2 separate regions of the Homo sapiens genome follow, and region 2 is linked to region 1. Evidence: fine-mapped expression QTL. Tissue or cell type: monocytes after interferon gamma. Region 1 holds a variant in brackets; the other region holds the start of a gene. All regions are shown on one strand. Distances are between the middles of the regions. Region 1 overlaps P2RY2 (purinergic receptor P2Y2). Region 2 holds the start of P2RY2 (purinergic receptor P2Y2).

Evidence for each region. PIP is the estimated chance that this variant, and not a neighbour inherited with it, causes the effect.
Region 2: P2RY2 starts here. The variant in region 1 is the best candidate, but not a certain one, in a credible set for the expression of P2RY2 in monocytes after interferon gamma (Fairfax 2014, PIP 0.64).

What each region holds. Positions count from the first base shown.
Region 1 is chr11:73,241,245-73,244,256 of GRCh38, reverse strand. It overlaps P2RY2 (purinergic receptor P2Y2), which reads right to left. Exons shown (of 3, transcript NM_002564.4): 3 at 1,830-3,012. Among named protein-coding and RNA genes, the nearest start is that of P2RY2, 24 kb to the right of the region's middle. RefSeq lists enhancers at 1,155-1,394, 1,040-1,786. The variant A/G (reference allele first, on the strand shown) is at 1,462.
Region 2 is chr11:73,217,128-73,219,627 of GRCh38, reverse strand. It overlaps P2RY2 (purinergic receptor P2Y2), which reads right to left and starts at 1,347. Exons shown (of 3, transcript NM_002564.4): 1 at 1,196-1,347. LOC124902709 (a long non-coding RNA gene) reads left to right here and starts at 1,435. Exons shown (of 3, transcript XR_007062773.1): 1 at 1,435-1,601. RefSeq lists enhancers at 76-794, 795-1,513 and a silencer at 1,227-1,436.

The DNA.
Region 1 (3,012 bases):
TGCCTCAAAGGGCCATTGTGAAACTTGTAAAATAATTAATTTATTTCCTTTGCAAAGGAAAGGAATGTGCCGGGCACTGATGGGCACGGAGGATAAAGCAGTGACCAAAACAGATCCCTGCCTTTTGGGAACTTTCATTCTAGCAAGGAGAAACAGCATAAATAAACTATGATGTGAGTATGGTTACCATCCCCCCCCACTTTTTTTTTTTTAATTTGAGATGGAGTCTCGCTCTGTTGCCCAGGCTGCAGTACAGTGGCACAATCTCGGCTCACTGCAACCTCCGCCTCCTGCCTCCCGGGTTCAAGGAATTCTCCTGCCTCAGCCTCCCAGGTAGCTGGGATTACAGGCACGTGCCACCATTCCCAGCTAATTTTTGTATTTTAGTAGAGATGGGGTTTCACCATGTTGGCCAGGCTGGTCTCAAACTCCTGAGCTCAAGTGATCCACCCGCCTCGATCTCCCAAAGTGCTGGGATTACAGGTGTGAGCTGCCATGCCCGGCCAGTTACCCCCTTTGTTTATGATGAGAAAACAGGTACCCAAGGTCGCCTGATTGATGAGTGGCAGAGCTGGGATTCAAACGCAAGTCCCTCTGACTCCAGGATTTGTGTGCTTTCTGTGCTGTGAATGAGGGCATCTGGGTTTATGTGGAGTAAAAGCTTGTGGGTGAGAGGTGTGCAGAGATCTGAGAGGACGGCTTAGGAGGCTGGCTGAGGCTTCCCATCTTACCTCTGCTTCTGGATCCACACAAGGACCCCGAACTCAGGCCTCCCTTTCCACATGACTTCCACAGGAGTCAGACACATCTTACCTACGGACATGCTGGTGGGATCCAAATTACAGGCATCTCAGGTGTGGTGGATGAACCCCAACTTCTTCCCAGATGGAGTTCCTGGGAGAACCGGCTGTGCTAGTCACACTTCTCCGGGGCATGGAGTGCAGTTTTGAAGGCTGTCCTGTGAGAAGACAAGGACTTCTAGGGGCGTGCGGAGGGCAGGGGTCTCTGGTGAGGATGGGGTTACCGGAGTGGGGTAGAAGAGAGAGTTAGGGGTGCCCATTCTTTGGAAAGAGCATGGTTACACCCTTCCATGTCCTTCCACGGCTGCCCTAGGCAGATGTGCTGTGTCCCTGAGTCTGAGCTGGGGAGGCGCAGGACCCTGTGAAGAGTGGTCTTCCACAGGAAAAGGGATTGCTCAGCAGGGAATGATCTCTACCCCTGGCTGGGGTGCAGGAGACGGACATCATGGTTTGGGCCAGGCACCGTCACCTTGTTGGCAAGTCAGGGCATGTTGGCAAGTCACTGTATGCAAATTGTGTTCTCTGTTTCAATTGTCAGCTCTCCCCCCGGACCCTCACACTCAACAGCCTGGCTGCAGCCGGATCATTTTCTTATCACCCCATAGGCGAAGGTCTGGATCCCAGCCCCCGTTTCCTGCCACTGCTGCCAGCTTTGGCCACC[A/G]GGGGGAAGCAGAGCAGCACCAACCAACCTGGGGCCCTTCGTAGACTAAACAGCCAGGGCAGAGCACAGAGTGGACTGTCCCTGTCCGCCTCCCTTTGCTCCCAAGGATTCTGGGGACAGGGAGCAAAAGGGGAGGGTGATGGGGAGTGGGGAGGGAAAGGGAGTTAGAGTGGGAGGGAGGGAAGGAGAGGGGGTGCCACAGAGCTGGCAGCTGGACCCTCTCTCCATTCCCATCTCTTCCTGCCATTCCACTTCCACTTCCGGGGTTTAGTCTGACTCCTGGCAGCCCCTTGTTGCCCCCCTCTGGCCTGGCTGCCCACCTGCAGCCCTTCTGTCTCTGAGTGTCCACTTGGTACCTGCCAGGACTGCCCCTCGCCCCTCACCATCCTCCCTGGAACATGTGATCATTCAACACACACATAAACACACGTGCACACACACAGAGACAGCACACACTGTGTGGACTAAGGTGGCAGGCTTTTAATTTCCTCCCCCACGTTTTACAATTGCTTTGGTCACAAAGGCAGGTCTAACAGTTTAATTCCACGCCAGAGAGGAGGGGACTTTTCATGTGGCTGCTGATTTGGAATTTGGTTCCAGGACATAAATCTGAGGACACATGGGGTAAAATAGCCCGCTTTCTAAAGAAACCTGGAAACAACTGGGGTAAGACATCTTCTCAGGGTTCCTTGCCCCAGCTCTCTACACACCCCACCTCACTCTACACGCTGAACCCTGGGCACCATGGATTCAAAGACATCTTTGCCACTGTGAGATCTCAGCCAAGTGTGGGGTGTGGGGTGGGAGGGGGACAGGCTTCCACATCCCCAGCAGGGTGTGCAGGAAAATCACTCAGGGAGACCAGGGTATCAGTCAGAGTCCCAGCAGGAAAGACGTTGCACACTCTAATCAGGTCATTTTGGGATAGCTTAGCGGAGAGACTGTTTTTACAAAGGTGTGGACTGATGTTTGGAGAGTTCTGTGCAGGGGGCACTGATGGCCCAGGAAGCAAGGTCAGCAAGAGAGGGCTGTAGCATCACCAGGAAAGACACATTGGTCCCTTTCCTCCCCACCCTGCCCCAACACCTAGAGGAGAGAGGGACCCAGAAGAGGAGTGATGAAGGTCCTCACAGCATGGGGGAAGAGGACAGGTGAGCATTCAATTAAGCAGGCGATGGAAATCTTAAACCTGACTTTGTTACCCAAAAGTGACTCAAAAGTTTGGAGTTTGCCAAATGCGCAGTTTATGGATGGGAAAGGAAAATCACACGTCACTGAGCAGGGAGCATGGGTGGGAGGAAAATCAAACAGTTGCATGTTTGTGCCTCACTGCATTGTCTCTGTCTAGTAAACCGGGAAAAGAGGTATTGGTATTACCAGTTCAATTTTCCAGATGAAGAAACTGAATTTGCAGTCCCAGAATTGGTGATGGCTGAACTGTGCCAGAGCCCTGCTCCTGCATCAGCTGCCCTGTGGCCCCCACCCTCCCCTTTGCCCCAGAGCTGCTGCTCTGTCACCCTGAGTTCAGTCACAGTCAGCGTGGGCTGCTAT
Region 2 (2,500 bases), 24 kb after region 1:
CTGTGGAAGGCTTGTGCCCTAGGGAGGGGCACAGTTGGGATTCTGGTTCTGGGAGGCTCCTTCCAGGGACTGACTTCCCATCCCCAAGCTGTGAGCCTGCCCATGGGGGGACACTGGTGCTGAACATGACACACTCATCAGCTCCTCAACAGCCCTCAAATTCCTTATCATTAGTCCCTTCTTACAGACGAGGCCACTGAGGCTCAGAGAAAGGACGGCTTGCCCAGGCCACACAGTGGCCAAGACAGGATTGGAACATAGATCTCTGAGTCTCCAGAGCTCTCTTGTGGACCTGTCTGCTCAGAGAATCTTCTTCCTTCCACTTCCACCCACAGGTAATAAACTTGCCTGGGTCTCCACCCAGATCCTCAAAACTCATAATTATTTCAGCTTAGATCCAAAACAAACCAGGCAGATCAGGCTGTGGTCCTGGGAAGCTGGGGATGCCATGCTGAGAGGAACAGCAGCCATGGACCCCACAAATCCCGAGCTGGCAATTCTGGTCTCCAGCAGTCCCCAACCCTTGGGCTGCGCTCCTGGAGGACCCCAAGAGGGCCACTGGCAGCCTTCGGGTTGGGGGGTGGGGTATCGCCTTTCTCCTGACTGACCCTTTCTACCGCACCATTTGCCAGATTAAAAGCCCGGGGACAGAGGCTTAACTGTCCTTTCTGGCCACTCCCTCCTCCCCCGCCCACTCCCTGCAACTGCCCCCTCAACATTACCAATGGTAGGTGGCCACCCAGAGTGACCCTGGGGTTAGGACAGTGGTAGGGGGTCTCCAGGGGTTCGCGTCTCTGGGCACCGGCCACCGCCTCACGCCACGGGGACGCTCACATCGGAGCACACACAGACAAGTTCCGCAGGCTTGGCCAGTCGCCCCGAGGGGCGCACACACTCACCCGCTAACACGCAGACCTCCCCAGTACGCTGACGCGCACAGCCTCACTACTGGGGCGCCCGTCCACACTCACCGAGACCGACGCTCCCGTGGAGACAAAGTTCAACCACGGACCCACAGGCGCGTTCAAGCCGTCCAGTTATGCGCTACACGCCGGCTCGCAACTGTGCCCCGGGGCGACAGCCGCTCCACAGCGCCCTCCCCTGCCCCGCGCCCAGTCCGCACCTGCGCCAGTCTGGCCCGCCGCTTCCCCGGGCCTCTCCCAGCGCCTTGTTCCCTCCAGACGCCCCACCCCACCTCTCGCCACTGCGCTGCGCTTCTCCTCTCAGGGTGCCGTCGCCGCCGCTCCCGGGTGCCAGTGCCCGGGTCCCGCCGCAGCCGCAGAGACCCACGTGCCTGGGAGCCCGGCTACCCACCTCCCTGCGCTGTTCCCCAACCCCGAAGCCGGGCCAGGCAGGGGGCGGGGCGGACTTTTGACTGACCCTGGCACCGCCCTCAACCCGCCCGGGTAGACACCGCGCCACCCGCTCCGGGACGCCGCCCAGCGACAAGGCCGCGGGGTCAGCGTGTCTGTACCGGTGCTGCAACGGGAGGGTCGGGCGGCGACGCTCTCACTGCCGGGCCAGAAGGAGGCCTCCCGGCTCCCTCACGCTAGAAGGGAGCTGGTTACCAGAGGTTTTCAGAGACGCCAAAGTTTTGCCAGGTCAGCCCGGTGCCTGCGTGGCCCACTGCGGGACCTTTGCGCCCAGCCACCGCGCCACCCTACCCCTGTCCCGCCCCTGCCCCAGCCCGGCTGGCCAGGAAGGGACCTACTGGGAGATACCTGCTCGGAACCCCAGGCTAAGGACGTACCTCCCTTGCTTGAAAGTGGGGGAAGGGGGTGCCTCTCTCCATTACCGTGGTTAGGAAAGCAGGGTACTCAGGATCCCGCCTCTCCCGTGCTCCCCACTTTCCCTGCCTTAATCTTATCAGCAGCTCCCTGAACTCCCCACTCTGGCCCCTTATCTTGAGCTGCTTTACCTCTCTTCTCTGTCGTCAACCCCACTCTAATGGCCTTCCCTGGTCGGGCTACCGGCTGCATGTCTGACCCGTTCGGAGACTGTGAGCTCCCGAGGGCAGGAACCAGGTCTGCCTTCTTCCTGCTGCTGTCCTAGAGGTCCTGGGAGGTGCTCAATCCTTGAAGGTGTGAATGGATGAATGAATGAGCACCCCGCCTCTCTCTCATTTCTGGTCTAGGAATCAGGAGTGTAGGTTCCTGTCTGGCTTCAGCACTGACTCTGGGAGACCTTGACCCAGTTCCATTCCCTGGCAGGGTCTTCTTTCCTGTGAAATGGAGCCAATCGCTCCGCTGGCTGGACAAGTGCAGAGGAGGCCTCTTCCTGTAGCCAAGGAACTTGCCCCGGGCCTTCGGGGCCTTGGGCCCTCTTGGGCTCCATATCAGCTGACTGGGCCTGGCTGCCAGGAAGGGTGCTGGCTGCAGCCCCACCAGGAGCAGTAGCAGAGTGGACACACAGCCCATAGTGGCTGAGCCGCCTCTGCAGTCCTGCTGGGGCCTTTGCTTGGGAGACACAAAGGCCCCTTGTCTAGCCTCCTGCGCCTATT